Linked DNA regions of Homo sapiens: region 2 is linked to region 1. The links come from fine-mapping of genetic effects on gene expression. A gene starts in region 1. The other region holds a variant in brackets. All regions are shown on one strand. Distances are between the middles of the regions.

What was found. PIP is the estimated chance that this variant, and not a neighbour inherited with it, causes the effect.
Region 2: its variant is fine-mapped to the expression of PBRM1 in whole blood (INTERVAL, PIP above 0.99).

Annotation. Positions count from the first base shown.
Region 1 is chr3:52,675,209-52,691,230 of GRCh38, reverse strand. It overlaps PBRM1 (polybromo 1), which reads left to right and starts at 5,318. Exons shown (of 32, transcript NM_001405607.1): 1 at 5,318-5,482; 2 at 11,505-11,657; 3 at 12,634-12,731. The coding sequence starts at 11,520. It overlaps GNL3 (G protein nucleolar 3), which reads right to left and starts at 5,199. Exons shown (of 15, transcript NM_014366.5): 1 at 5,126-5,199; 2 at 4,404-4,462; 3 at 3,848-3,985; 4 at 3,616-3,729; 5 at 3,039-3,122; 6 at 2,025-2,157; 7 at 527-639; 8 at 160-286. The coding sequence starts at 5,138. SNORD136 (small nucleolar RNA, C/D box 136) reads right to left here and starts at 2,344; the gene lies at 2,198-2,344. It overlaps SNORD19 (small nucleolar RNA, C/D box 19), which reads right to left and starts at 1,991; the gene lies at 1,916-1,991. It also overlaps SNORD19B. RefSeq lists enhancers at 4,972-5,041, 5,036-5,724 and silencers at 5,362-5,511, 5,582-5,731.
Region 2 is chr3:52,540,539-52,556,560 of GRCh38, reverse strand. PBRM1 (polybromo 1) reads left to right here. Exons shown (of 32, transcript NM_001405607.1): 29 at 1,682-1,837; 30 at 5,744-5,814; 31 at 5,924-6,140; 32 at 8,326-11,194. The coding sequence ends at 8,498. It overlaps UQCC5 (ubiquinol-cytochrome c reductase complex assembly factor 5), which reads right to left. Exons shown (of 2, transcript NM_001124767.2): 2 at 14,671-16,022. It also overlaps the pseudogene RNU6-856P. Among named protein-coding and RNA genes, the nearest start is that of UQCC5, 12 kb to the right of the region's middle. The variant A/G (reference allele first, on the strand shown) is at 9,142.

The DNA of each region.
Region 1 (16,022 bases):
TATGTGCTTTCAGTAAGGTATAAGCAAGAAGCTAGTATTTGAGTGAGCCTTTTACTTGACAACAACTCCATACACTGCTGCTTGGGCACTTGGAGAGCTGGCTAAACTTCTTAACTATTTCAACACTTAAAAAGTAAAAAGTAATGAACTGAAACTCACCAATTACTCCAACCCGAATGGCTTTGCTGCAAGTTTCCTGAAAACCTCCAAGAAGTTTCCAAAGGCCCTCTTTCCCAAAGCAGACTTCACTTCTGAATGGAGCAGCATTCTTCTTTGCCTTCACACGCTAAAATTCCAAATAGTTGAATTATTCTGGCAACTTACCTGATAAATTTCAACAAACCCCAAGCAATCAGGCTCCAGAGCCCAGCTCTTAAGATAACTACATTGCCTTTCAGATGATCTCTGGCTGAAATCAGAGTTGGATCTTGTAATTTTTCATTCACTTAAATCAAGATTTTGTACACTCATCATATTTCAACCAAAATCTGAAAGAATCACATTTCTTACCACTAATAAAGGATACCTTGGTTATCTTCCCTTTATCCTTTGGTTTTGTTGAGGCTCTGAACACCACTGTTGGCAATTCTTTCTTCAAATAATTTAGCCAGCTCTCCAAATTCTCCTTTGGTACCAGATCTGATAGCAATTAGAAATAAGACATTTGCGGCCAGGCACGGTGGCTCACGCCTGTAATCCCAGCACTTTGGGAGGCCGAGACAGGCGGATCACGAGTTCAGGAGATCAAGACCATCCTGGCTAACACGATAAAACCCCGTCTCTACTAAAAATACAAAAAAATTAGCTGGGCGTGGTGGTGGGCACCTGTAGTCCCAGCTACTCGGGAGGCTGAGGCAGGAGAACGGCGTGAACCCGGGAGGTGGAGCTTGCAGTGAGCTGAGATGGCGCCACTGCACTCCAGCCTGGGTGACACAGCAAGCCTCCATCTCAAAAAGAAAAAAAGAAAAAGACATTTGCTCCAATGTGGCTATTTTGTTGAGATGCATTTGCAAAATCTGGCAACTATAGATTTTACTCTGGTTTACATTTTCCCAGTCCTTTCAAAAGGATTTAACTAGAAAATCAGGGCAGGGTAAGCTCCCCTACCATACTGCCCGTATCTTAACAGAGCTCAGCATCTGCACTTCTCTATTTCAATTCCCCTTGTATTGCTCACTTGAAAACTTCAGGACAGACTCAACGTCTGGATTACAACCCTACTAACCCTAGAGCTATGTTTCCAGAATTTACCTTTAGCTAGCAGCCAATTGTTTCTTCATTTTTGAGACGAAGTGTTGTTGCCCAGGCTGGAGTGCAGTGGCACAGTATCGGCTCACTGCAACCTCCGCCTCCCGGGTTCAAGCAATTCTCCTGCCTCAGCCTTCCGAGTAGCTGGGACTACAAGTGCCCATCATCATGCCCGGCTAATATTTGTATTTTAGTAGAGATGGGGTTTCGCCGTGTTGGCCAGGCTTTTCTCGAACTCCTGGCCTCAAGTGATGTGCCCACTTCAGCCTCCCAAGCAGCCAATTGTTTCTTAACCCCAACAACAATTTTAGATCTCATTCCCATTTTCTGCTTTGTAATTCTCTGTTCTGGGTTTTCTTTTTCCTGCTGCTCAAACTCAGATGCATAATTATGCATTTCATTTAAATATTTTGTCACATACGTTCCAATTTATTTCACTCTTGAACTAATACCCGACATTGTGTAGGTGTGGGGAATTTGTCACACTGTCATCACTTCCTAGATGAAATATACTACACAATAAGCTGGGTATAGCAGCTTACACTCTTTATTTAAAAGATGGTAAATACTGAATGGCAAAAGAATAGTAGAAACCAGTTGAGTCAGTTGTAAAAGTCACCTGGCTCCCCACTGCCTAGCACTGTCTCTGGCAAAGTGCACGTACTCTGGCTTTGCTGAGATCAGAGTTGGATCTAATCAGTCTTCAGTGACTATCAGACTGTTTCCTCGTACCTCACCCATGTACACAGAAGACAAAGGGTACCCTCTTTACTCACCTGATTTATTTAATATAAGTACCAGCTTTTTCTGTCCACTCTGGACAATGGCCTCTTCTACCTGAGGACATCTGCAACCAAGAGGATCTCTGGCATCCAACACCTCTAGGACAACATCGGAGGCTTCAATCACCTATCAAGGAAAAAATGACCAGAACTACATTATCAAGGAGAAAATGATCAGAACTACATCCCTTGTTCTGGTAATACCTTCCACAAGAGAGTACTGGCATTATCCATTTAGCAACAGGGTGAGCTCAGAGTTGGATCTCATGTCTTCACTTTGGTATGAAGAATGTTGACCCTCATCATTTCTCACACAGGAAAGTAAAACATAGGCTTGCTCAGCAGTCTCTGATCAAGATGGATTTCAAAAATGCAAATATCCCTGTCTGAATCCTCCCATAGTGAATTATATAGTTTGATAGGTCCTTCTGGCCTTGCCAAAAGCTGCTGAGGGGCAGTCAGGTTCTATCCATGGGGGAGTGAGCTTGGGAAAATGGATGTTGGGGATGGGAGTGCTGGAGAGCAACTACACCAAGTTGTCCTCCTTCACTTAGGTTTCAACAGAGTACTTTAGAGACCTTTAGCCTGACACTGCTTACTCCAATGTACCTTTCTCAATCTCAACACTATGTCAACGTTTTTTTTTAATGTTGTAAATCATGCTTACAGGCAGAACCAGTTTTGTGCAAATATTTAGAACCAAAGAAACTATTTCCGTCAGGTAAACATAGCAGGAAAGGCATTAAACAGCATAAGCTAGAGTCGAGTCACGAAATGATTTGTTGGTGAAAAGGTGGGAGGAGGGAGAGGATCAGGAAAGATAACTAATGTCGTACTAGGCTTAATACCTGGGTGATGAAATAATCTGTACAGCAAACCCCTATGACGCAAGTTTACCCATATAACAAACCTGCACATGCACCCTTCATCTTAAAAGGTTAAAAAAAAAATGACTTGAGTCTTTTAAACCTCATTACTACTGTCAGACACTGACCTAGGCTAAGATACCTTTTTAAGTTCTTGGCAGTACAGCTTCTTTGAATTCTGTTTGCCCGACTTGGCTTTGTTCTCAGTTTTGCAAAGCCCAAACTCCTAGAGGATAAAGGGGGAAATAACACAAAATTAGAAGTAGAGCAACTGTAACCTCTAACTCCATTTTCCACAGCTGAGTAGCAGCCCTTGCAGTTGTTAAATAGGTAAGATGGAGTCTGAACTCAGTTGTCTTCCTCCCAAGAAGCTCAGCAGCCTGTGGATGTGCTTTTATTTCTGCATCAGAACTCATCTCTCAGCCAGGCACAACAGCCCACACCTGTAATACCAGAAACTTCGGGAGGCTGAGTTGGGTGGATCACTTGAGACCAGCCTTGGCAATATAGTGAAAGCCCGTGTCTGCTAAAAAAAATTAGCCAGGCGTGATGGTGTGCTTCTGTAGTCCCAGCTACTTGGAGACTGAGGTGGTAAGACTGCTTGAGCCTGGGTGGTCCAGGTTGCAGTGAGTTGTGATTGTGCCACTGCACTCAGGCCCAAGCAAAAAAACCAAAATCAAAACCCCTGATCTCTCATTCATAAAGAGACCTAATCATACCTTTTCCATAGGTTCCACATTTGATGGCTTAATATCAGGATTAGTTTCAAGTTTTCTTTTCTTTTCTAGTTCCTTCTGCCTGTCAAGTTTCTGCTGCTGTTTTAGTTCTTCAAGCTGTCAGAGCCATAAGGGAAATAGGTGAACCAGTGACTAGTGTTGTTACCTTACTCTGAAAAATATCACACATAACACACTACACCACTCAATGAAAATTCTGGCTAACATAACTTACCCTCTGTTTCCTTAGCTCAGCTTCCCTAAGAAGAGCCTCCTTAAAGGGAGCACTGTTTGGAACTCCTGGGTCTTTCCTAGGCTTCTTGTGACCCCGCTTTTTAGCCTCCTTTCTTAATTTTCGATGATGTTCTCGAACCTATTAAAATAAAGAGATTTTGTCTGCTTACAAAAATATCTTTATACTTAAGCAGAATTCAAGTGAGAAACCAATCTGGCTGCAATTTAGTTATGCCTATAAAATGTCCTAGGAAAATGGAGCTTTAATTGGAATCTTACAAAGTAATGCATATGTAAGTATAAAACAGCAAGAAATTGTAACTAGAAGGCTCTCTATGCAGAGATTAACATGCTGAACAAATTTAGAGACTTATCACCAAATCACTGCACTTTCTCACAGCTGCACTCCTGATGCCTAAGAGCTTGTGCCCATGGTCAGTCTATCCAATGCCATTTCCCAAAACCAAATCACATTAACCCAGACTTTCCCGCAAAGGAACAGGGCAAAATCAGTTTAGCAATGTGTTTGGTACAGCTCTCTCAAGCACTACACTTACCTTTTTTTGGATTTTATACCGCTTATGGCAGGTCATGCGTTTACTTGCTTTCTTTAACTCTACAAAGAAACACATCACAAATCTGTTAACCCAAATGATTAGTTCTGGGTTAACGCACTATGGAGTTATATCCTTTTCTTGTGTTATTGGCTACCAAACCTAACGTTAAGTCTAATGCGAAATGCCTAATGCAAACATACGTGCTACTTTCAAATCCCAGAGAATTAAATTCAGTAGATCCAGAATGGAGTCAAAATTCCCTGCACTTACCCTCACAATATTAGAATGGGATCATACACAACAGCGTATGAGACACAAAACGACAACCACTTCGTGTCAAACAGCACGAATCATAAGGCAGGAGAGGAACACTGAGTCTGGGAGGCGATTCTCAGCTCTCACCTGGGCCAGTCTGCACGTGGCCACGGAAAGAAAATATTGGGCCTCAAACCTGGCTCAGACGCTGCTTCCTTACGAAAATCTAGCCTAGTCTTCCCCACCCTCTGCCCGGCTTCGTTCCGCAGAATGAGCCCGCGCGGTTAACATGATCGCCGTAGGGACTTCCAACTCTCGGTTCTACCAGGAAATAGGGCCAAGGCCTACGCGTAGGCTCCCACCCCCATACCAGCAGAGACAAAGCCGTAGCCGTAGAAGAGCGTCGTGGTGGCTGCAGCAACTTCCAGACGTGGGTCCCTCCACGCCCGCCTCCCGACCCCACTTACTAGGCCTTTTCATATTGGCTGTAGAAGGAAGCACAAACACATCAACCTGCCTCCGCTGGCGCCACGTGTGAACTGAAGCCACTGACGAGCGTCACGCACTTACGCTGCCGCCGTAAAGTGCGTCACCGCCTCTCTGCGTGCGCGGGCACGCAGTGTCGCGCGGAGCAGGGATCGCTTGGCGGCCGCGGGACTGGTTTTGCGGCGGCACCGGGAGGGGTAAGGGAGGTGAGGGCGGCGGGTGCCGAAGCGACGGCAGCGGCCGCGGCCGGAGGAGCAATAGCAGCAGCCGTGGCGGCCACGGGGCGGGGCGCGGCGGTCGGTGACCGCGGCCGGGGCTGCAGGCGGCGGAGCGGCTGGGTAAGGCCGGGCCCAGGGCGGGTGGGGCCGCTCCCCCTTGGTCAGCTGCCGGGCCTTTGTGTGGGCCCGGGCGGGCGGGAGCCGCGGCGGAAGCCCCGCCCCGGCCGTGGGGACGCGCGGGTCGGGCCGGGCGCGCGGGGTTGGGCGGGGCGCGGCGGCTGGCCTCCGGATGGGCCCAGTAGCCTTGTCGCACCTGCCGGCAGGGACAAAGGCGCACTACGGGTCGGAAACTCCCCGCGCTCCTCTTTCCCGCTCGTCGCGGGGCAGCTTCAAAGCTGTCAACGTTTCCCTCAGTCCCCAATACCAGTGACAGGTCGGGAAAGTCCTTCATTTCCTCCGTTGCTCAGGGCCTCTTTTTTTTGTTGTGGTTTCTTGACGGTTCGACACAAACTCTTAGTGATTTTCTTTCCGTATTTTTTCCGGGTATTTTAATCAATGGGACTTGTATTTATAGTAGAGGCCAGATATTTCAGCTTCTCAACACCACAAAGAATCCGGGATTTTGGGAACTGTGTATATTTCTTGGTTTGGGGAAGCACAGTTTTGTTATTATAATAAGTTTTAATTTAAAGGGGAAGAAAGAGTTGCAAAAATATAGAAAAAGCCCTGAAAAATAAGTACACGGTATAGTGGATATAGAAATTCTTACAATAATTATAGAAGCGTATGTTGGGGTGAATTGTTTTAATTAACTTACTTTCCAACACAGGATTCTTGACAAATAATTTTAGGTATTATTTTTTTCTCCATTTGGCTATGTGCTTTTCCCCAAAAAGTGCAAATTGGACTCATGCACATAAAAGAGTAGCATAATTTTTGCTTTATTACTTACAGGTCGCCCATATTTGATTTTGAGCTCCAAAATGGAAGATTGGAAAATATGTTTTGAAGAGGTGTTTCAAATTAAAACAATAAAGAGTTTATGTGTGGATGAATGGAAGGGCCTTGACCGCTTTCTTTGGCTTTGGGAATGTACAAAATACCTCAAATGTTAATATCCTACCAAAATTCCCAAGATAAGTAAATTGTGGTGTATCTATATGATAGATTACTATCAAGTCATCAAACATCATGAGGAAGAATGTTGACTTGGAAGAACCTTCACTAAAACACAGGCTGTAGAATAATATATGTGGTTTGTTAACATTTTGGTAAAAAATAATAGGTAACTAAGGCATAAATACCAAAAACCGAATGACAACGTTAAGAGTGGTTTTTTTCTTGGAAGTAGGTTTATAGGTGTTTTTTTTCCTTTGAGTCCTGTTTTCCAAGATTTTGTTTTAAACATGTATTGTATTGCTAAATATTACTAGAAATATAGGAGAGGGCTAAAGTTCATAAACGGTCGAAATACACTGTTTGTCTATAGTAAGTCGATATTCTCCCAGTTGCACATTATTAAGTATTCTTAACTGTCCACTATAAATTATTGATTGTTAGACTTTTGAACTTGTAACTGTAATCAAGGCCATTTTAAAACTTGGCATTGAACTCTGGAATCTGTCTTTCCTCTTCATGGAAAGACAAAATTGCTGAAGGGATGCTTACAGGCATTTTTTTTTTTTTTTTTTTTTTTTTTTTGAGACAAGGTCTGACTTTGTTGCCCAGGCTGGAGTTCAGTAAAGTGATCATGGCTCACTGAAGCCTTGTGCTCCTAGGCTCAAGCAGTCCTCTCACCTCAGCATCCCAAGTAGCTGGGATTACTGATGTGCAGCACCACACCCAGCTAATTTTAATTTTTGTAGAGAAAAGATCAATCTATGTTATCCAGTCTGGTCTTGAACTCTCTGCCTCAAGCGGTCATCCTGCCTCAGCCTCTCCAAGTGCTGGGACTACAGATATGAGCCCCTGTGCCTGGCTGAGGACTTTTAAACTATACAAATAAACTTTTTTTTTTGAAGGTCTCAAGTGCACTTTTTTTTTGTTTTTTTTGGAGACAGTCTTACTCTGTCCCCCAGCCTGGAGTGCAGTGGCGCAATCCCAGCTCACTGCAATCTCTGCCTCTCTGGTTCAAGCAATTCTCGTGCCTCACCCTCTCGAGTGCCTGGGATTACAGGTGCATGCCACCACCTTGCCTAGATAATTTTTTGTATTTTTGATAGAGACGGGGTTTCACCGTGTTGGCCAGGCTGGTCTTGAACTCCTGACCTCAGGTGATCTGCCCACCTCAGCCTCCTAAATTGCTGGGATTACAGGCATGAGCCACTGTGCCTGGCCCTAAGTGCACTTTTAATACATTTATTAAAAGATAAACTGAGCACATAACCTATACCAAATACTATCCTGTAAGACAGGTCTACAAAAATGAATATGCTGTTCCTGTGCCTGGGGAACATGCAGAAGTGATTTCACTTTATGTTGTTTTTTTTTTTTTCTTGAGACGGTCTCGCTCTGTCACCCAGACTGGAGTGCAGTGGTATGATCTCGGCTTGCTGCAACCTCTGCCTCCTGGGTTCAAGCAATTCTCATGCTTCAGCCTCCCAAGTAACTGGGTTTACAGGCATGCACTGCCTCAGCCAGCTAATTTTTTTTTTTATTATTTTTTTGAGACAGAGTCTTGCTCTGACGTCCAGGGTGGAGTGCAGTGGTGCCATCTCGGCTCACTGCAACCTCCGCCTCCCGGGTTCAAGCGATTCTCCTGCCTCAGTCTCCCAAGTAGCTGGGATTACAGGTGCGTGCCACCAAGCCCAGCCAATTTTTTTTGTATTTTTAGTGGAGACGGGGTTTCACCGTGTTAGCCAGGATGGTCTTGATCTCCTGACCTCAGGTGATCCATCCGCCTTAGCCTCCCAAAGCGCTGGGATTACAGACATGAGCCACCGCACCCAGCTAAATTTTTGTATTTTTCTTTAGTAGAGACAGGGTTTCACCACGTTGGCCAGTCTGGTCTCGAACTCCAAGTGATGCACTGGCCTCGGCCTTCCAAAGTGCTGGGATTACAGGCATGACCCACCACTCCCGGCATTACGTTCTTATTTTAGAGATGAAACAGATCTGAGAGGTTACATCAACTAATCAGACAACATCAAGCTGATAATCAGAGGTGGAAGACTTAGGACTCCTATTCTGGTCTTAGGAGCAAAGGTCCTGTTGTTTCTCCCACCTTATAACATTGCCCTTCTTGTCAGACTTTCAAAATACATTTTAAAATGTGTCCCATGGATAAGAAAATACTTGAAAATTATCCTTAAGTTGAAACTTTTTCTTATCTTACCAAAGTAAATTAATGATTCAAGGATATTGGGATATTGTGTCATCCGAACGACATACACATGCTGATAATGTATTTTTTTGTCATTTGATTTTCAGTGGATTATTTATAAAAGTAATTTTGAACTCCTGCCAAAATGGTTGGCCCTTTTTTTTTTTTTTTTAACCTTGTCAAATTTTTATATGGTGTCTCCAATGCAGATAGGACTTTTGGAAATAAATGTTCTTTCTCTGAATTTTTTTTTTGTGGGGGAGGGTGTTTTCCAGACCTTTTGCTCACATGAGCCATTCTTGGTTTGTTCCAGCTTGCCAACACTTGGTGTCACATGTGAGCCTCCCACATGTATTCACTCTCCATTCCAGCTCTGTGATTGAACTCTGCTCTTATTGACTAGGGGGCAGTTGGGCAGGCATGCCTCATTCCTGGAATTGACAGTCATTCCTAATGTGAGTAAAGGGGAACCTCAATGAGACATCTTTAAACATATGAAAGCATTTGGTTTTAAAATGGAAGAACTGTCAGGTACTGTTAGTGCCTGAGCCTTTGCAGCAGTTTGTTTGATAGGTACAAGAGAACTGATATGCCTGTTTTCTCCAGTTCTCTTTATCTTTCTTTAGCAGTTCTATTTGAATGTTTTCTATCTATTCGTACTCATTTTTACTCCTTCTGACCCTTCTTTTCTATTTCCCCCTTCTCTGCCTTGTTCTTCTTTTTCAGTTTTGAATATACTAACACTGAATCAGCACTTCTAAAGCCCTTCCTTCTCCCACTGGCTTCACTTGGCTTTCAGACATAATGAGGAGACTGGCTTTTCGAGGCGCTGGTTGTGCTCTGGTAAAGCTGGTAAATTACTGATTATCTACACCCTTTCCCTTTTCTGTCCTTCCTTGACTTTTTCCTTCCACCTTTCTTAAATTTTTGTTATCCTTTCCACAAAGATTCCCTCCTTATGTTCATCAAATTCACTTGTGTCTTTGTCATAGATTGTTTAAAAGGGATTGGTCCTTAATTTATCTTAATGAATTGAGTCCTGTTGATCAGCTTTTTATAAAATGAACAAAAATCAGCAAAACTTGGCTAAGTTTTGGCTAAGCCTTTTGACGATTTTAACTACTTTTAGCCAACTTCAAACTAATAATACTGTATAACAAACCGAAGCCTAGAGTAAGGAACATCATCGTGGTAGATTTTGTTTTAAACACCATGTGGACTTTAGTTTGGAAAAAGAGATCTGAGACTTCTCTTTTTCCTTAATTGCTCACCAGGATTTTCAAATGTGATTCTTTTGCTCCTTCTTTCTGTTTCCTGGAGATCCCCAACCTTTCTTTCCATACTGCTGGCAACCAGTGTTCTCCTGTTCTAATCATTCAGCTGCTGGTGTCGTAGTGTCCTGAAATTCAGTGTTTCCATGTGCCTTACAATTATGAGGTACTCTAGTTCTATGAGGTTCCTCATAATTGTAAGGCACATGGAAAAGCAGATGAGGTGCTGACTCAAGAAGTGAATACCTTGGGGCCTCTGAACCCCAGGCCTGCCTGACTACCTCAGGGGCTGAAGGATCAATACCTTCAGTGTTGATGAGTGAAACTGGGATCTTTTTTTTTCTTTTAGCTTTAGAAAAAGGCCTTTGACGGGCGGATCACGAGGTCAAGAGATTGGGACCATCCTAGCCAACATGGTGAAACCCCGTCTCTACTAAAAATACAAAAATTAGCTGGGTGTGATGGCACACGCCTTAGTCCCAGATACTCTGGAGGCTGAGGCAGGAGAATCGCTTGAAACTGGGAGGTGGAGGGAGGTTGCAGTGAGCAGAGATCGTGCCACTGTACTCCAGCCTGGTGACAGAGCGAGACTCCACCTAAAAAAGAAAGAAAGAAAGAAAGAAAAAGGCCTTTCAAATCACAATATACTATTTGATAGTATTGTTAGATTGTATTGCAATATAAGCATTGCAGGACTTTCTTGGGTATATACTATCTGTAGCAGATCATTCAGTGGTTGCATTTCTTGTGTTGTAAATAGAGTTATAGTTAAAATTGTTATAGTTAAATAGAGTACGTGTTATAGTTAGAGTATGTCATATCACTAAAAGGTGATTAGTTTGAATTAACAGAAGAGTTTCAAAGGATAGTTTGTACCTCTGTCTAGGTATAGCAAGTCTCATTAAGTGTTTTCCAGGGATATGTCTTGTGGATCCTGTTTTAATGAATGGAGAACATTCATTTTCAGGGTTTTAATTTTAGAGTACATCTAAAGTGCTAGAAGGTTAATTGTCCTCTGTCCCCTTACCTTTTTGCACTACTCATTTGTCCTGGGCTCTGCTTCTTGCTCTTTTCCACATGATGGCCCACCTAGCAAATGATCATAATTGTAAGGCACATAGAGAAGCAGATGAGGTGCTGACTCCAGAGGTGGATACCTTGGGGCCTCTGTACCCCAGGCCTGCCTGACTGCCTCATGGGCTGAAGGCTTAATACCTTCAGCACACTAATGTACTGCTACATATAGGTTGGGAAACTCTAGGCCAAATTTGGAGCCAGAAGTTGAGTCATTCAAGATTGCTGATATACAAATGAATATGCTTTTGTTGAATTTGTCCCATCAAAATTGGAAGTATAGCATTCTGGTAAGTGAAAGACTAAAACAAGGAAGTCCAGGGCTTAAAAAAAAAAAAAAACTTATAGCTAGTTAAACTACAACACGTTAAAATATCCTCCTAAGTGAGCCAGGAGTTTGGTAGCAGGTGTCCAGCTGAAGACTTGGTGACAGAGTCTATTTAAATGTAAGAACATGGCTGATTATTTCTTATAGAAGAAGTTGGATTCCATGGGTTCCAAGAGAAGAAGAGCTACCTCCCCTTCCAGCAGTGTCAGCGGGGACTTTGATGATGGGCACCATTCTGTGTCAACACCAGGCCCAAGCAGGAAAAGGAGGAGACTTTCCAATCTTCCAACTGTAGATCCTGTGAGTAACTTGGATTACATGGTTTCTGCCTGCTCTTCCCACAATTCCCCTATCTTCCCTTTAATGGTAAAATTGTTACGATGCAAGGCATCTCCACTTTTTTAAGATTCTCTTGATTAATAGTCTTTTCTTTTATGAACATTATGTATTCAGCTAAGTCTTAGAGTAATAGTGTGATCTTATGAATAATTTCAGTATGTTACATCATATATTAATTCAGCAAATAACTGTGTGACTATCATGTGACAAGCACTGTTCTCATGGTTGGGATATAGCCATGTGGAAACAAGCCCATTTTTCACATGGAACTTAGATTCCAGGCGGGGGAAGTAGAATGTAAACAAGTAAACGAATAAAGAATAATGTATCCTTAGCTAGTAATAAGTGCTAAGAAGAAAATTTTGGGTGATTTGGGCTGTTTTGGCCTGAATTCGCTGGAAGAGAGTTCCAGACAGAACCAGTGCAGAGGGGTTGGGTCAGGGATGAGTTTTGTGTGTCTTGGTTACAGAGCAGGGGATGGTCAGGAAGGAGAAGGAAACTGGCAAGCTCCACCCATTCAGAGTATGTAGGGCCCACACAAGCAATGTTTGGAGTTTAGATTTTATTCTCTGTGAAGTGATAAACCCTTCTGTCAGATGGCTTTAAGCAAGAGAGTGATAAACTGATTTAGTTTCAAAGAAGAAAACCCTTCAATTGGATGACTTTAAGCAAGAAAGTGATGAACTGATATAGTTTAGAAGACAAAATCACCAGGAGCATAAATCTGATGAAAGATACCAAAAAGTTAGTCAACTCAGTTGTTTGAAAGGAGACATATTGTCAGCATATTTCAGACTTTAGCATGTTTGGTAATATTGAGAGTCATCATTTTTCTTCTCTACTTGCCTTTTATTGAAGAGTAGAAAATAATTCTTATGTCTACACTGGCTTTCTGTTCACTTTTTTAGTGATTTTTTTCTCCTTTGCTAATGTGTAGATTGCCGTGTGCCATGAACTCTATAATACCATCCGAGACTATAAGGATGAACAGGGCAGACTTCTCTGTGAGCTCTTCATTAGGGCACCAAAGCGAAGGTGAGTTCGAAGCACATCAGTACAGTTGCGGGGGATTTGGTCCAGAGTCCATGTGTATTAAAGTGTTTGGAAATTGAGCTTTTTGTTGGCAGGAATGGCTTAAATGATACTGGGGTCCAATTTTAGTCTTTAGTCTTTAGTAATCAAGCTGTAGTGAAGCTTTTTTTAAATTAAAAATCTGTTGAGCCAGGCACAGTAACATGCACCTATAATCCCAGCTACTTGATTTTTTGAGCCAGGCACAGGAGCATGCACTTGTAATCCCAGCTACATGGGAGACTAAGGCAAGAGAATTGCTTGATCCAAGGAGTATGACACCAGCCTGGGCAACATAATGAGACCCCGTCTCTTAAAAACAAAAACAAAAAAAATGACCTATGCGGAAAGATCTCTTGAGGCCAAGAATTTGAGACCAGCCTGGGCAACATAGTGAGACCCATCTCTACAAAAAATTTTTTGAAAAATTAGCCAGGTGTGGTGGTGCTCACCTATAGACCCAGCTACTAGGGAGGCTGGGGTGGTAGGATTGTTTGAGCCTGGGAATTTGAGGCTGCAGTAAGCCATGAGTGTCACTGCACTCCAACCTGGGTGATGGAGCAAGAGCTTGCCTAAAAATAAATATTTAAAAAAGAGTACTGACCAGGCACAGTGGCTCACGCCTGTAATCCCACCACTTTGGGAGGTCTATAGGTGGGCAAATCACCTGAGGCCAGGAGTTCGAGACCAGCCTGGCCAACATGGCAAAACCCTGTCTCTACTAAAAAATACAAAAATTAGCCAGGTGCAAGGCTGGGCGCAATGGCTCATTCCTGTAATCCTAGCACTTTGGGAGGCGAAGGCGGGTGGATCAGCTGAGGTCAGCAGTTTGAGACCAGCCTGGCCAACGTGGTGAAACCCCGTCTCTACTAAAAATACAAAAATTAGCCAGGCTTGGTGGTGGGCGCCTGTAATCCCAGCTACTTGGGAGACTGAGGCAGGAGAATCACTTGAACCCGGGAGGTGGAGGTTGCAGTGAGCCGAGATCGTACCGTTGCACTCCAGCCTTGGTGACAAGAGTGAAACTCCATCTCAAAAAAAAAAAAAAAAAAAAAGCCGAGCATGGTGGTGGGGCGCCTGTAATCCCAGCTACTTGGGAGGCTGAGGCAGGAGAATTGCTTGAACCTGGGAGGCAGAGGTTGCAGTGAGCTGAGATCCCGCCACTGTATTCCAGCCTGGGTGATAGAGCCATTCTGTAGGTTGCCTTTTCATTTTGTACGGTGTCCTTAGATGTACAAAAGGTTTTAATTTTCATGAAGTTTATGTTGTCTTTTTCTCTTGTTGCCTGTGCCTTTGGTGTCATATCCATGAAATTAATGCCAAATCCAATATCATGAAGCTTTTCCCCTATGTTTTTGTATTAATCAGGGTTCTCTTGGACAGGACTAGGCTGCAAATTTTCCAAACTTTTATGCTCTGCTTCCCTTATAAAACTGAATGCCTTAAACAGTACCCAACTCACCTCTTGAATGCTTTGCTGCTTAGAAGTTTCTTCTGCCAGATACCCTAAATCATCTTTCTCAAGTTCAAACTTCCACAGATCTCTAGAGCAGGGGCGAAATGCCCCAGTCTCTTTGCTAAAACATAACAAAAGTCACCTTTACTCCAATTCCCAGCAAGTTCCTCATCTCCATCTGAGACCACCTCAGCCTGGACCTTATTGTCCGTATTGTTATCAGGCTTTTGGTCAAAGCCATTCAAGTCTCTAGGAAGTTCCAAACTCCCACATTTTCCTGTCTTCTTCTGAGCCCTCCAAACTGTTGCATCCTCTGCCTGTTATCCAGTTCCAAAGTCGCTTCCACATTTTCGGGTATCTTTTCAGCAGCGCCCAACTCTACTGGTATCAATTTACTGTATCAGTTGGTTTTCACACTGCTGATAAAGACATACCCGAGACTGGGAAGAAAAAGAGGTTTAACTGAACTTACAGTTCCATATGGCTGGGGAGGCCTCAGAATCATGGTGGGAGGTGAAAGGCACTTCTTACATCAGTGGCAAGAGAAAAATAAGCAAGAAGCAAAAGTGGGAACCCCTAATAAACCCATCAGATCTCATGCAACTTAATCACTATCACGAGAATAGCACGGGAAAGACTGGCCTCCATGATTCAGTTACCTCCCTCTGGGTCCCTCCCACAACATGTGGGAATTCTAGGAGATAACAATTCAAGCTGAGATTTGAATGGGGATACAGCCAAACTGTATTGGTTTTCCTCTAAGAGTTTTATAGTTTTAGCTCTTACATTTAGGCCTTTGATCCATTTTGAATTTTTATAAGTAGTGTTTAGGTAAGGATCCCGCTTCATTCATTATTTTTTTTTTTTTTTTTTTTTTTTTTTTTTTTTTTTTTGAGACGGAGTCTCGCTCTGTCGCCCAGGCTGGAGTGCAGTGGCGGGATCTCGGCTCACTGCAAGCTCCGCCTCCCGGGTTCACGCCATTCTCCCGCCTCAGCCTCCCAAGTAGCTGGGACTACAGGCGCCCGCCACTACGCCCGGCTAATTTTTTGTATTTTTAGTAGAGACGGGGTTTCACCATTTTAGCCGGGATGGTCTCGATCTCCTGACCTCGTGATCCGCCCGCCTCGGCCTCCCAAAGTGCTGGGATTACAGGCGTGAGCCACCGCGCCCGGCCCCCGCTTCATTCTTTATATGTGTGTATCCAGTTTTCCCGGTATCGTTTGTTGAAAAGACTGTGCTTTTCTCATTGAATGGTTTTGGCGCCTTTGTCAAAATTTGCTTGACCGTGTATGTGAGGGTCGTTTCTAGGCTCCATTCTATTCCATTGGTCCCTGTGTCTGTTTTTATACCAGTAGCACACATTTTGATTACTGTGAACAACATATTCAGTGGCAAAATACTTAAAGCTTTTCCTCTAAGATCACGAACAAGACAGAGATGCCCACTTTCACCACTTCAACACCTTGTTCACTGTGGAATAAATCCCACCTGGTTATGGTATATAATCCTTTTAATATCCTGCTGAATTCAGTTTGCTAATATTTTATTGAGAAATTTTGCATCAGTATTCATAAGGGATATTGATCAGTAGTTTTCTTGTAGTATCTTTGTCTGGCTTTGGTATCAGAGTAATGCTAGCTTCATAGAATAAGTTAGGACGTGACCTCGCCTCTTCAATTTTTTGGAAAAGTTTCATAAGGCTTGGTGTGTTAGTTCTTGAAATGTCTGGTTAGAATTCATCAGTGAAGCTATCAGTCTAGGGATTTTCTTTGTGGGAGATTTTTTATTACTGATTCAGT
Region 2 (16,022 bases), 130 kb after region 1:
AGTTCTTAATAATTTCCTCAACCACAGCCCATGAAGGCTGCGTTCAGATGGGCTTTTGTAATTGAAAGCAAAGCCTCTTAACATCCTTAAATTTCCCGCCTACTTAACCCTAAATGCTATAACTGGTGGTGTGGTTAAAAGATTGGTAGCATTGGATCTCTTCATGTTTAATTAAGATGATGGTGTCTGTTCAAAAGTAGTTTTTACTTTCTGAACTCTTCATTTAAAAAAAAATGAAAACTCATAATCTTATGTATAGAGAGATTATTATTCAAATTTTTGTCATTCGGTTTATGTAATTGTAAGTTAGTCAGCTTAGGTATGACTAGTGAAGCAGGGTGAATCGACCTCAGAATTTTTAGTAATTTCATAGCCTTAAAAGACTAAACTTTTATAAATAAATATGTTTGAAATCTTCAGGGAAAGTCCAAGAGTAAAATTCTCAGAATCTGAAGTTTTCCACTATTTGACAGAGTCCCTCTGCAAAGAGTATTTTATAAAAATGAGGTTTGGCACCAGTCCCTCAACCCTCCCTTTGCAAGAAGCTGTGACCAAAGGTGACTGCATTTTGGGGGGAGCTTTGTGTTCTTATTCATCATGATCATTACAAATCCCAGAAAAGTCAAGTTGTTTTTCTTGTTTTAAAAAAATGCCATGTGGTTTTAAAGGTCTTTTGATAGGTGAGTCCTTGACATTTTGAATTTTTTTTCTTACATTTATTCCTTCTGCCAAAAATACTTGTTTGCTGAAACTCTTCTCTAGCCAGTAGAAAATATTTTGTCATGTGTAGGTACACTTTGAAAATAAAGGAATAAAAGCCTCTGTTCACAGAAATTGTGTACCTCAAATTAAAATGCTCCCTGTTAAGGTTTATATGAGGACATTTGAGCTTGGAGACTGATGGCATTTGGCATTTTCTCATATCAGCAGAGCCCAATTCTCCAGCCATTCCTCCGTAAAGTCTGTGTGTAGGCTCCTGAGTGACCTGGACTTGGTTGGCTTGGTTGGGAGTGTTTAGGTTTTATCTTTATCACATTTTTAGATCTAAAGAAGGAAATATCATTCACTGTGATGGTTCTTAGAAGCTGTTCCCCAACTCAAGCCCAAGCACAATCCATTCTTACCAGCAGTGGTAAGGCTAGAAAGGAGGAGTAGATGTAGAAGTCTTGAACAATTCCTGCCCCAAAGCTGGAGAACCATGCTTTGTGATCAGGACTATGCGCTCATTTCCCTCCCTTCCTATTTCCCCTCATGTGTACCCATGATAGGCATATGAGTGTGGGCAGAGTGGAATGATGGGGTTTATACTATTCAGTTAGAATTGCAGTCAGCAGAACTGGTCACTCTGTTTGAACAGCTTGCAATAATTATTTCCTTGGGAAGGCTGTTACTAGAACTCTTTACTATTATTTAACTGAAAACATGCAGCATATTTACCCCAGGGAAAATAACTACAAATAATAGTGTACTAAGTACTAATTCATCCCAAAATGTTGGGTCTCATATTTGTAACTTTTTATTTTGTTCATTATTGCAGCAAAATAATTGCACTAATTGCTGTTATATCATGCAGTACTAAGGGTGCTTTATTCATTGGTAGTGCATGTGGGGGTTGGTTGTTATTACTTAGCTCATGTTGCATGTTAATGATGCATGTCTGAAATTTGTTGTGTCCTTCAAGGCATGATGGGTGGCTATCCGCCAGGCCTTCCACCTTTGCAGGGCCCAGTTGATGGCCTTGTTAGCATGGGCAGCATGCAGCCACTTCACCCTGGGGGGCCTCCACCCCACCATCTTCCGCCAGGTGTGCCTGGCCTCCCGGGCATCCCACCACCGGGTAAGAACTTCATCCTCATTCACTCATTAATCTCATCTTCATATTCTCTTTTTCCGCTTTCAACCAGTTGTTCCAGGAGGCACCCGTGGCCCATTGTGGCCAGGCCTTCCCTCCCTGAGAATCCAAAGGTTGTCAGCAGCAGGGCATGTCTTGTGCATTCAGCAGGTGGCCCAGCACTTGTGCCCTTGTGCACCTGGCTGCTGGCAGCAGCACAGCACACATGGCAGAGGCCAGACTCAGCAAACCAAGGGACAAGAGGCATACTCTATCGATAATCACTCAACTAATTTGACATGTCCTTGAAAAGCCAGACAGCCTAGAAGGCTGTGTCCTCTTATCAGTGAATGAAGTTTCCCAAATTGCTAGTTCAGAGTAACATGTAAAAGCATTTTTTGCCCCTGAGTTGCATTTCTCCCTCTGGTGCAATTCTTATCTCACAGGGTATAGAGTATCTGTTCCATCTCCTACTTCTCCTCAAGCAGCCTTTCTAAGGGGATTGCAGAGCTGCTAAGGTAGAACTCTTCAGAAATCTTTCACTCAGTCTGTCTTAGAACAAAAAGCAGGGAGGGAATGCATTTTCACTGAATTAGTGTTCTGTATGTGAGTTCCCTAAGAAGCATGACATGCCAGGTGTAATGGCTCATGCCTGTAATCCCAGCACTTTCAGAGAATGAGGAAGGTGGATCACTTGAGCCCAGGAGTTCAAGACCAGCCTGGGCAACCTGGTGAGACCCCATCTCTATAAAAATTAGCCAGGTGTTAGGCCGGGCACGATGGCTCATGCCTGTAATCCCAGCACTTTGGGAGGCCGAGGTGGGCGGATCACTTGAGGTCAGGAGTTCGAGACCAGCCTGGCCAATATGGTGAAACACCGTCTTTACTAAAAATACAAAAATTAGCTGGGCGTGGTGGCGGGCACCTGTAGTCCCAGCTACTCGAGAGGCTGAGGCAGAAGAATCACTTGAACCTGGGAGGCAGAGGTTGCAGTGAGCCGAGATTGCACCACTACACTCCAGCCTGGGCGACAGCAAGACTCCGTGTCAAAAAAAAAAAAAAAAAAGGAAAAATTAGCCAGGTGTGGTGGCATGTGCCTGTAGTCCCAGCTACTCAGGAGGCTGAGGTGGGAGAATTACCTGAGCCTGGGGAGACTGAGGCTGCAGTGAGTGGTGATCGCACCACTGCACTCCAGCCTGAGCGACAGAATGAGATCCTGTCTCAAAAAAAAAAAAAAAAAAGCCTGACATTAAAGAACAGCCTAGCCTACCCTCCTAGCTGTAGATACTGGTTTGTCTGTCAACAGAAGCTTAGAAGTTCTTTTATATAGAAATATATAAATGGATTCCAGAAATAGCGACATTCATTTTCACTTTAAAATGTGAATTAGCAAGTTGAAAGATTATTTTAAAGAAAACCTAAATGAAAGGAAAATCACATGTTCCCATATTAATTGCCATCATATGCAAAAGAACTCTTAGCTGTAATCTGGATGGAGGGAATGTGACCTTTGGAAGACTCGGAAAGCATTTGGTCCATTACCTACAACATCAGCTAAGGGCCCAACCCAAATGGTAAAATGTGGTTGGAAACTTGTTAAATTTGCTTGTACCAGTGTTGGACCTACCAGTGATAGGGTTTTGCAGGGTACCAAATGATGCTTTGGAGGGTGCACCCAGCAGTGTGCAGAGTGAGCAAACTTGGTGGCCTGGCCTGGAGCCTCCAGCCACACTCTTTGTGAGAGTTGCTTAGAATATGGCCATAATTCCACAGAAGCATTTGCTCCAGGTATTGCCAGAGGAGGAAGTGTTTGTAGGGTTAGGTGCTTCATATGAAAACAGTGGACTGTGTGAATTGCTGTTGCAGCAGGAGTCAGTCATAAGGTAAATGTTCCCATGTGGCAGGTAGACTTGGCCTTAATTTTTTGCCCTCTCACCTTGATACAGGGTATCACTGAGCCAATAAGACCAGGCTGGAGTTTACACCTTCTAGGTGCACTTAGTGGGATCCATGTCTAATGCCAGTACCCTCTAGGTTGCAGATGTCTTTTGGTGGGTGTTGGGACATAGCTGTCTTCCTTTCCACCTTCCTGAAATCCTAAATTCAACTGGAGGGAAGCCCAACACACCTGCTTAGAATTGAGGAGACAGGGCCGGACACAGTGACTCAATCCTGTAATCCCAGCACTTTGTGAGGCTGAGGTGGGAGGATTGCTTTGAGCTCAGCAGTTCAAGACCAGTGGGCAACATGGTGAAACCCCATATCTATTTTATTTAATTAAAAAAGAAGCCAGGAGTCAGGGAAGACCCCCTCTTAGTGCCTACAAATGCACATGTCTGAGCAGGCTTAGAGGAGTAGGGGATTCATTGAGCTCTTTTGGTGACTCAGCTCAGATTCTCACCGGCTGCCCAAGTATGGCATTTGTCAATAGAGGAAGCAGAAGAGTTTGCTGATTTGTGCTGCCCTGCAAAGCAATGATTTACACAGTTTAGGGAGCCACACCGTGTTCTGGAATCTAAGGTGGGTGAGTGTCCCAGGGCACAGGGAGGTGATGGGCACAGAGGTTAATAATATATTGCTGGGGCACCAGCTTACCCACCACAACCTCTTCATTCATTCACGAATAATCATCAGGATCCTACTTTGGTGATCCGGGTGGACTTCTGGGTACTTGGAATATAAAACTCCCTGCTTTTTAAACAGAAGCTTTTTTACTTGTTATTTTCTAACAAATAAGAGGCTCTCTTATGCTTCCTGGAAGTGGCATTTAACAATTCTGAACCTTAGTGCTCGCTTCAGCAGCACATACACTAAAATTGGAACAATATGGAGTTGAGCATGGCACAAGGATGACATGCAAATTCATGAAACAGTTCTGAACTTTAGAATGAGGAGCTGCTTCTGCCTGGACAAAATATTACGATTTTTAATCCGAAGGGACTATACACTATGAAGTTATACCTCCTCTCGATTCTTCTACACAGCCAGCAGGATTTGTTTAAGTTTTCAAGAACAGTTCACCACAGTTTTAGGTTTATTTGATTTTAATGAACTGGGTCCCTTGCCTATTTCTGTATTTTATCAGAATAGCAAATATGCACCCTGAAATCAAAAGAGCCTCTGACACTAAATTTAGGACATCTCATTATTATCAGCTGTGCCTGTGAGACAACAATTGCTCGTGAGCATTCACTGAGGGAAGCTTACAAAATTATTATCAGGGACATAGTACAAATCTAGTAGGGCCATGAAGTCTCTCTGTTCCTTTGTCATTTTGCATATAAAGCAATAGCAACAAGGTTACTTCACTTCAGATGATTCCTTTTCAGAGTGCTACTCTATCAGATGGAAGTGTTCTCTCCCTGCCAGCACTAGTGACTCCAGTTAGAACCAGCTGCTGATGGTCTGGGAGGGGATAGCAAGGCTGTGCCTTCAGCCTTCACAAAGCTCATTTAACTATGCACTTCCACAGCCTCTTCCCTTGTGTCCCTGCTGTCCTAGCACATTGCTTACTGCTGAGCCTGATTCCAGTGCCATTCCTGCTTAAATTAAATACAGGCTTCAGTTGCAGGAGAATGTGTTGTCAGAAGAAAAACACCTTGAATGTAGAGGTATATTCTGACAATAGCTTACCTAGAGAAATACTAGAATTTTATGCAAGGTTCAAATCATTTCTAAGCCATAATTGATGTACATCTGACAGATTGTTCTAGTATTATACTTTAAGTACCTAGAAACAAAACAACTTTCTATTCAAATCCTATTGGGGTGCTTAAGATTCCTAGCCACAAAGATTCAAGGGCAGAGGTACATAGGTTTGAATTATGAATGGCATCATTTCTTATCAGACAGTAGTTTTTCAGTCATTTCAACCCAGAGCCTCTAACTGTGCCATTGCATTCTGAATTATAGGTGTGATGAACCAAGGAGTGGCCCCTATGGTAGGGACTCCAGCACCAGGTGGAAGTCCATATGGACAACAGGTGAGCCTCCCAGTTTGATTTTCTAGGACTTGACAGAATTCGAGTTATCCTTCTCAGAACATGTGCAGAGTCTCTTTTTGCCTCACCATGTGGTCCTGTGCTCTTTCAGGTGGGAGTTTTGGGGCCTCCAGGGCAGCAGGCACCACCTCCATATCCCGGCCCACATCCAGCTGGACCCCCTGTCATACAGCAGCCAACAACACCCATGTTTGTAGCTCCCCCACCAAAGACCCAGCGGCTTCTTCACTCAGAGGCCTACCTGAAATACATTGAAGGACTCAGTGCGGAGTCCAACAGCATTAGCAAGTGGGATCAGACACTGGCAGGTAAGATTCCTTCTAAATAAGCCTTTGTGAAATACATGCTTCCTCAAAGCTGTCTTACTGCTGTTAGCATAGTATATCATACAATAAACACCCCTTTTTCTTATACAATTAAAATAAATTATATATTTCATAAATGGTTTGGAGTTTCTTTGCATGTTTACGTAACACACTGAAAATGGTTTGTTTTGTTTTGTTTTGTTTTTGAGACAGGGTCTCACTCTGTTGCCTAGGCTGGAGTGCAGTGGCGCGATCTTGGCTCACTGCAGTCTCCGCCTTCCAGGTTCAACTGATTCTTCTGCCTCAGCCTCCCCAGTAGCTGGGATTACAGGCACATGCCACCACACCTGGCTAATGTTTATATTTTTAGTAGAGATGGGGTTTCACCATATCAGCCAGGCTGGTCTCAAACTCTTGACCTCAAGTGATCCACCTGCCTCGGCCTCTCAAAGTGCTGGGATTACAGGCGTGAGCCACTGTGCCTGGCCTGAAAATGGTTTTTGGGTTGTTTTTTTTTTTTTGAGACAGTCTCACTCTGTCGCCCAGGCTGGAGTGCAGTGGTACAATCTCGACTTACTGCAACCTCCGACCCCCAGGTTCAAGCGATTCTTGTGTCTTAGCCTCCTGAGCAGCTGGAATTACAGGTGCTCAGCACCACGCCCAGCTAATTTTTTTATCTTTAGTAGAGATGGGGTTTCGCCGTTTTGGCCAGGCTGGTCTCGAACTCCTGACCTCAGGTGATCTATTCACCTCAGCCTCCCAAAGAGCTGGGATTATAGGCATGAGTCACAGCGCCCTGCCTAAAAGTGTTGTTGTGGTTTTTTTTGCCAAATTTCAAAGCCTAGTTTTCTCATAAACATCACTGCCATCTTTTTAAGTACATTGTTTTTTGTTTGTTGTTTTGTTTTGTTTTGTTTTGTTTTTCAGGCATTTGGACATTAGTATAGATGCATTGGGTAAATTAAAAATTATTGGCCAGGCACGGTGGCTCCCACTTTGGGAGGCTGAAGTGGACAGATCGATTGAGTTCAGGAGTTTGAGACCAGCCTGGACAACATGGCAAAACCCCGTCTCTACAAAAAAATTAAAAATTAGCCAGATGAGGGCCAGGAGCGGTGGCTCACGCCTGTAATCCCAGCACTTTGGGAGGCTGAAGCGGGCAGATCACTTGAGGTCAGGAGATCAAGACCATCCTGGCCAACATGGTGAAATCCCATCTCTACTAAAAATACAAAAATTAGCTGGGCGTGGTGTCTGGTGTCTGTAATCCCAGCTACTTGGGAGGCTGAGGCACGAGAATCATTTGAACCCGGAGGTGGAGGTTGCAGTGAGCCAAGATCGCACCACTGCACTCCAGCCTGGGTGACAGAATAAGACTCTGTCTAAAAAAAAAAAAAAAACTATTTTACCTCAGTTTAACAAAAGGAAAAAAATATTAGAAACCGATTAGGCTATTCATTTAGTTCAACATACTTATGTATTTTCAGTATGTACTAAAGTACTTGTGTAGTTTCTGGAGAGAAGTTTGGAAGTTTCTACTTGTTCTTGATTTCTAAACCAACTTTGGTCATCTCATTTCATTTCTTTAGAGTAGAAGGTATATTTTCCCTTTCTTCACATGTTTACCTTTTTAGGAATTTTTGTTAACATTGAAGTAATTATTAAATATCAGGGATGCCTACAAAAAAATAATGATCAGGCCGGGTGCAGTGGCTCACACCTGTAATCCCAGCACTTTGGGAGGCCAAGGTAGGCAGATCACCTGAGGTCAGGAGTTCAAGACCAGCCTGGCCAACATGGTGAAACCTGTCTCTACTAAAAATAGAAAAATCAGCCAGGCTTGGTGGCAGATTCCTGTAATCCCAGCTACTCTGGAGCCTGAGGCAGGAGAATCGCTTGAACCCAGGAGGTAGAGGTTGCAGTGAGCTGAGATCGCGCCACTGCACTCCAGCGAGGGCGACAGAGCGAGACTCGATGTCAAAAAAAAAAAAAAATTTATGATCAAATCTTTTAGTGCCTAGTAAAATGATATAAGAAATGTGCCTGGAAATATTCTGCAGTTAAAATTCATAATATTTAATAAATATTCAATGTTTTGTGTTTTAATAAGTTCGTCAGACCTTAGAACTGAGGGAAATTTTGCCAACTTAAAATTCTAATTTCTGTCTCTCTGTACTTTAATTTTCAGCTCGAAGACGCGACGTCCATTTGTCGAAAGAACAGGAGAGCCGCCTACCCTCTCACTGGCTGAAAAGCAAAGGGGCCCACACCACCATGGCAGATGCCCTCTGGCGCCTTCGAGATTTGATGCTCCGGGACACCCTCAACATTCGCCAAGCATACAACCTAGAAAATGTTTAATCACATCATTACGTTTCTTTTATATAGAAGCATAAAGAGTTGTGGATCAGTAGCCATTTTAGTTACTGGGGGTGGGGGGAAGGAACAAAGGAGGATAATTTTTATTGCATTTTACTGTACATCACAAGGCCATTTTTATATACGGACACTTTTAATAAGCTATTTCAATTTGTTTGTTATATTAAGTTGACTTTATCAAATACACAAAGATTTTTTTGCATATGTTTCCTTCGTTTAAAACCAGTTTCATAATTGGTTGTATATGTAGACTTGGAGTTTTATCTTTTTACTTGTTGCCATGGAACTGAAACCATTAGAGGTTTTTGTCTTGGCTTGGGGTTTTTGTTTTCTTGGTTTTGGGTTTTTTTATATATATATATAAAAGAACAAAATGAAAAAAAACACACACACACAAGAGTTTACAGATTAGTTTAAATTGATAATGAAATGTGAAGTTTGTCCTAGTTTACATCTTAGAGAGGGGAGTATACTTGTGTTTGTTTCATGTGCCTGAATATCTTAAGCCACTTTCTGCAAAAGCTGTTTCTTACAGATGAAGTGCTTTCTTTGAAAGGTGGTTATTTAGGTTTTAGATGTTTAATAGACACAGCACATTTGCTCTATTAACTCAGAGGCTCACTAC[A/G]GAAATATGTAATCAGTGCTGTGCATCTGTCTGCAGCTAATGTACCTCCTGGACACCAGGAGGGGAAAAAGCACTTTTTCAATTGTGCTGAGTTAGACATCTGTGAGTTAGACTATGGTGTCAGTGATTTTTGCAGAACACGTGCACAACCCTGAGGTATGTTTAATCTAGGCAGGTACGTTTAAGGATATTTTGATCTATTTATAATGAATTCACAATTTATGCCTATAAATTTCAGATGATTTAAAATTTTAAACCTGTTACATTGAAAAACATTGAAGTTCGTCTTGAAGAAAGCATTAAGGTATGCATGGAGGTGATTTATTTTTAAACATAACACCTAACCTAACATGGGTAAGAGAGTATGGAACTAGATATGAGCTGTATAAGAAGCATAATTGTGAACAAGTAGATTGATTGCCTTCATATACAAGTATGTTTTAGTATTCCTTATTTCCTTATTATCAGATGTATTTTTTCTTTTAAGTTTCAATGTTGTTATAATTCTCAACCAGAAATTTAATACTTTCTAAAATATTTTTTAAATTTAGCTTGTGCTTTTGAATTACAGGAGAAGGGAATCATAATTTAATAAAACGCTTACTAGAAAGACCATTACAGATCCCAAACACTTGGGTTTGGTGACCCTGTCTTTCTTATATGACCCTACAATAAACATTTGAAGGCAGCATAGGATGGCAGACAGTAGGAACATTGTTTCACTTGGCGGCATGTTTTTGAAACCTGCTTTATAGTAACTGGGTGATTGCCATTGTGGTAGAGCTTCCACTGCTGTTTATAATCTGAGAGAGTTAATCTCAGAGGATGCTTTTTTCCTTTTAATCTGCTATGAATCAGTACCCAGATGTTTAATTACTGTACTTATTAAATCATGAGGGCAAAAGAGTGTAGAATGGAAAAAAGTCTCTTGTATCTAGATACTTTAAATATGGGAGGCCCTTTAACTTAATTGCCTTTAGTCAACCACTGGATTTGAATTTGCATCAAGTATTTTAAATAATATTGAATTTAAAAAAATGTATTGCAGTAGTGTGTCAGTACCTTATTGTTAAAGTGAGTCAGATAAATCTTCAATTCCTGGCTATTTGGGCAATTGAATCATCATGGACTGTATAATGCAATCAGATTATTTTGTTTCTAGACATCCTTGAATTACACCAAAGAACATGAAATTTAGTTGTGGTTAAATTATTTATTTATTTCATGCATTCATTTTATTTCCCTTAAGGTCTGGATGAGACTTCTTTGGGGAGCCTCTAAAAAAATTTTTCACTGGGGGCCACGTGGGTCATTAGAAGCCAGAGCTCTCCTCCAGGCTCCTTCCCAGTGCCTAGAGGTGCTATAGGAAACATAGATCCAGCCAGGGGCTTCCCTAAAGCAGTGCAGCACCGGCCCAGGGCATCACTAGACAGGCCCTAATTAAGTTTTTTTTAAAAAGCCTGTGTATTTATTTTAGAATCATGTTTTTCTGTATATTAACTTGGGGGATATCGTTAATATTTAGGATATAAGATTTGAGGTCAGCCATCTTCAAAAAAGAAAAAAAAATTGACTCAAGAAAGTACAAGTAAACTATACACCTTTTTTTCATAAGTTTTAGGAACTGTAGTAATGTGGCTTAGAAAGTATAATGGCCTAAATGTTTTCAAAATGTAAGTTCCTGTGGAGAAGAATTGTTTATATTGCAAACGGGGGGACTGAGGGGAACCTGTAGGTTTAAAACAGTATGTTTGTCAGCCAACTGATTTAAAAGGCCTTTAACTGTTTTGGTTGTTGTTTTTTTTTTAAGCCACTCTCCCCTTCCTATGAGGAAGAATTGAGAGGGGCACCTATTTCTGTAAAATCCCCAAATTGGTGTTGATGATTTTGAGCTTGAATGTTTTCATACCTGATTAAAACTTGGTTTATTCTAATTTCTGTATCATATCATCTGAGGTTTACGTGGTAACTAGTCTTATAACATGTATGTATCTTTTTTTTGTTGTTCATCTAAAGCTTTTTAATCCAAATAAATACAGAGTTTGCAAAGTGATTTGGATTAACCAGGTTTGGTTGTTCTGTTAAAGTGGTGTCAGATGTTTCAAGCAGATTTAACTCCTGCAAGCCCTGATTTCATGCTGACAAGGTTGTATGTGACTGCCAATTTAAGAGAACAAAGCTCCACAGATGGAGATGAAAGTCAGTGTCCAGACCTCTGGTTCAGGGCTCGGGCTGCATTAACACAGAGCCAAATGTAGTCAGACTGCAGACTGAAGTGCCCCACGCCACGCCTCAGGCTGGCAGTCAAGGAATTCCTACATGTCCTCAGCATGGGCAGAAATGCAGGTTGAAATTAAAATTGGAGAATTACTGAGGGCGGAAAGTGAGGAAAGCATGTAAGCAGTATAGCCCACTTCAAATAGCTTGTCTGTGGCCAGAAGAAACAGGTGGCCCAGGTGTCTTTAACATCTTTATAAACTCTTAAAACATGACCATGCTTTTAATAGAAAGTGTTGGTAAAAGCAACCAACTGTTTTCCTCTAATATCACTTTGCAAATCCCTGTGGTTCTGTTCTCCTGAATTTAGGATAGTACCGGCATCTGTGCCCCTGAGCATATTTTGAACAATCATTGATGTATAGCTAGACATCCCATCTGAACACTGAGCAAACAAATATTGCTATTATTCTGTTCCTTTTTTTTTTTTCTTTTGAGACGGAACCTCACTCTGTCACCCAGGCTGGAGTGCAGTGGTGCAACCTTGGCTCACTGCAGCATGCGCCACCATGCCTGGCTAATTTTTGAATTTTTAGTAGAGACAGGGTTTCTCCATATTGGCTAGGCTGGTTTTGAACTCCTGGCCTCAAGTGATCCACCTGCCTCAGCCTCCCAAAGTGCTAAGGTTACAGGTGTGAGCCACTGCGCCCAGCCTACTCTGTTCCATTTTAGCCTGGAAGTATGTTAGGTCCCTGAATGAAAGTTCAGAACTAAACAAATTAATGGACTGTCCCTTTTCCCTGTTTTGGCTATTTCATGGTATTTACATCTTGCAGATAGCACATAAATGAGACAAGAAACTCCAGATTTAATACTCGTGTGAAGACTAAGCACTAACATGCTTTACTAGGAGATAAATTACTTTGGAAAACAACAGGGTCCAAGAGTGTGTGTGTGCGTATATATATATATTTTTGTTGTTGTCGTTCACGCCATTCTCCTGCCTTAGCCTCCTGAGTAGCTGGGACTACAGGCGCCCAGCACCACGCCCGGCTAATTTTTTGTGTTTTTAGTAGAGATGGGGTTTCACTGTGTTAGCCAGGATGGTCTTGATCTCCTGATGTCGTGATCCGCCTGCCTCGGCCTCCCAAAGTGCTAGGATTACAGGCGTGAGCCACCGCGCCCAGCTAAGAGTATATTTCTTTAAAGAGAGTTAATTCAGTGTGAAAAATTTAAACACACACACAAAATGGAGATTAAATATCACATCAGGGATGTAGGTAAGACTTCCAAAATAGAACTGCTAGATGAACAAAAATAACTCATTTATTCACTACTTTTTTTCTTTCTTTTTTTGGGGGGGGCTGTAATACTGTTGTACTATTATTAGGTACTTTCTCTATAAATTCAGATAATAAAGTGACACTCCAAAGCCCATATTCTTTCCCCAACACCACAGTGGAGGTAGAGTTCTAGTAATAAATGCTAATCAGGTTTTCAGCATTCTGCAATAAGTATAGTTCTTGAAATTTATTAAAATTTATGCCCTGTAGTTTACAGTTGGTGGTACTGCAATTCTTTTCACGGCTTTTTTTTTTTTTTTTTTTGGAGACAGGGTCTCACTCCATTGCCCAGGTTAGAGTGCAGTGCTGGGATCATACTTACTGCAGTCTTGATCTGGCTCAGGTGATTCTCCCACCTCAGCCTCCCAAATAGCTGGGACTACAGGTGCACACCACCAGGCCTGGCTAATTTTTTGTACTTTTTGTAGAGACAGGGTTTCACCACGTTGCCCAGGCTAGTCTTGAACTCCTGGGCTCAAGTAATCCTCCTACCTCAGCCTCCCAAAGTGCTGGGATTATAGACATGAGCCACTACTCCTGGCGCCCTTAAATAGTTCAGTGTCTGATAAGTAGGATAGAGTCATTCCTAGTAGGAGAGTTAAAAATACTTTTGAGGAAAAATTAAAAGCTTATATACCTTAGCTGGGCACAGTAGCTCATGCCTGTAATCCCAACACTTTGGGAGGCTGAGGTGGGAGCACTGCTTGAGCCCAGGATTTTGAGACCAGCCTGGTCAACACAGCAAGACCCTGTGTCTACAAAAAATTTAAAAATTAGCCAAGCATGGTAGCTAGCTAGTCCCAGCTACCTGGGAGGCTGAGGCAGGAGGATCGCTTGAGCCCAAGAGTTCAAGGCTGCAGTGAACTATAATCATGCCACTGCACTCCAGCCTGGGTGACAGTGAAACTCATCTCAAAAAAAGCTTGCACCCTAACAAATGAGTTCTCACTCACAGCATCCAAACTAATGTGCTCTGAAAACCTATCTTCCATTGAATACAATAATTGCTTTGGTAGTCTACCTGCCTAAAAGTCAGAAGTTGTCCAATCTTTTTTTTTTTTTTTTGAGACGGAGTTTCACTCTTGTTGCCCAGGCTGGAGTGCAATGGCGCGATCTCGGCTCACCGCAACCTCCGCCTCCCAGGTTCAAGCGATTCTCCTGCTTCAGCCTCCTGAGTAGCTGGGATTATAGGTGCCTGCCACCACACCCGGCTAATTTTTTTTTTTTTTTTTTTTTTTTTGAGACGGAGTCTCGCTTTGTCGCCCAGGCTGGCGTGCAGTGGCGCGATCTCGGCTCTCTGCAAGCTCTGCCTCCCGGGTTCACGCCATTCTCCTGCCTCAGCCTCCCGAGTAGCTGGGACCACAGGTGCCCGCCACCACGCCTGGCTAATTTTTTGTATTTTTAGTAGAGACGGGGTTTCATCGTATTAGCCAGGATAGTCTCGATCTCCTGACCTCGTGATTTGCCCACCTCAGCCTCCCAAAGTGCTGGGATTACAGGCGTAAGCCACCATGCCCAGCCATACACCCAGCTAATTTTATATTTTTAGTAGAGACGGGCTTTTTCCGTGTTGGTCAGGCTGGTCTCGAACTCCTGACTTCAGGTGATCCACCTGCCTCGGCCACCCAAAGTGCTGAAAGTACAGGTGTGAGCCACTGCACCCAGCCTTCTTTTTTCTTTTAATAGAGACGGAGTGTATGTTGCCCAGGCTGGCCTTGAACTCCTTGCCTCAAGCAATCCTCCTGCCTGAGCCTCCCAAAGTGCTTGGATTACAGGCTTGAGCCACCAACCCTGGCCATCATTTTCAAAGTCTGTTGTCCTTAAATAAATTAACATTCTAATGGAAAGAAGAAAAAGAAATGGAGAGGAAAGCTCTAGAGAAGGCCAACACAAAATTCAGTCTAATGGTTCTCTGTGGGGTGGAAGCAGGGGGATGGGCCAGGGAATGAACCCACAGCAGACACAAAAGTTAGCCAATGGTTTTATTAGTGTTTACTATTATTCTTTGTAAAAGGTATGACGTATTTTCTATATGTATCAAATACTAAACTCCTAAAACAAGGTGGGTTAGGGCAAACATGGAGTATGGCCATATAATTGAGAATCATACTATAGTTTTTATACAGCAGTCAAGTCACTAAAAATGGTTTATCAGGTTAGGTTTACCAGGAATCCTAGATGACACAACTGGGCATGAGAATACGATGAACCACCGTCCTCTCCCTGATGGCAGAGGTCATTACTGGCCTTTCACATTCAAGCCATCTCCCAGCTGTGACTCTGGGCTTGCTGCACTGTAGTGTAGGTAGTGCTTTAAGGAGATGGGAGTAGTTAGTTAATGGTTCTTTACTGAATTGGTTCTAAGATAAGTGGACTAAAATTAGAAGAAAAATCTAGAAAAAATTAGGAGACATGTTTGTGGCAGAGATCATTAACTTGAGGATACCCTATGGCCTTAAGCATCAGCTTTATTCTCATGCAATAGTTAGAAACTATTCTGAAACTTAGTCTTTAGTATGTAGATTTTTTTTTGCTTGAAACGATGTTAGATGTGGCTATGCAAGCATGGAAAGGTATCTGCTTTTTCTACCAGGCTGATCCAAACTTACACTGGGTCAGATTGCCAAATCACTCAATAGACTGAGCCTCTGATTTAGCTCAAGTCTGGGATGCTTTATACTGTGTAGGTTCACTTTCTCATGGAAGGAGCAACTGTTTCTAGCAGCTGAATCGAACAGCAACATCTTCATCCTAGAGTAGTGTGAAACCTGTTGCCCACAGTCCTCATGAAGATCCAGCCCTTGCAGTTTAGGGGAGCCAAGCAAGGGAGGAGCATATTTCTGTTCACAAGAACACTAGCATGAGAAATGCGTAGTCAATCAAGAATTTCCACCACCCTAGCAAAAAGTTTATAGTCTAGTAGCTGGCAGAAATACAACCTGCATAATTATCCTGGTTTAAATGATCTGGCAATAGAGAATGTGTCCATAATTTAATTTGAATTCTGCAAAAAAGTAAATAAGGTTATAATTAGTTGCCTAAAAACAAAGATTGCCGAAAACAATTCGGGCTTCACTGAAAAGCATCCTGATTGATCCTTGAATTGTTTAAGAAATATTTCATGGACTAGATTCATCGAGTGAGTGTTTTAGGAGGAAATAATTTTCCCACAAGTGCTGTCCAGCAGTGACTTGGGAAGTACTCAAGCAGAGACAGAACTATAAAAATTCTTTGCAAAAACAGTTATTGGAATATTGTGCAGCTGATAAAGGACAAGCTGTGTCAGAACAAGAGATCTGAAAAGTATATTTTAAAAGGCAC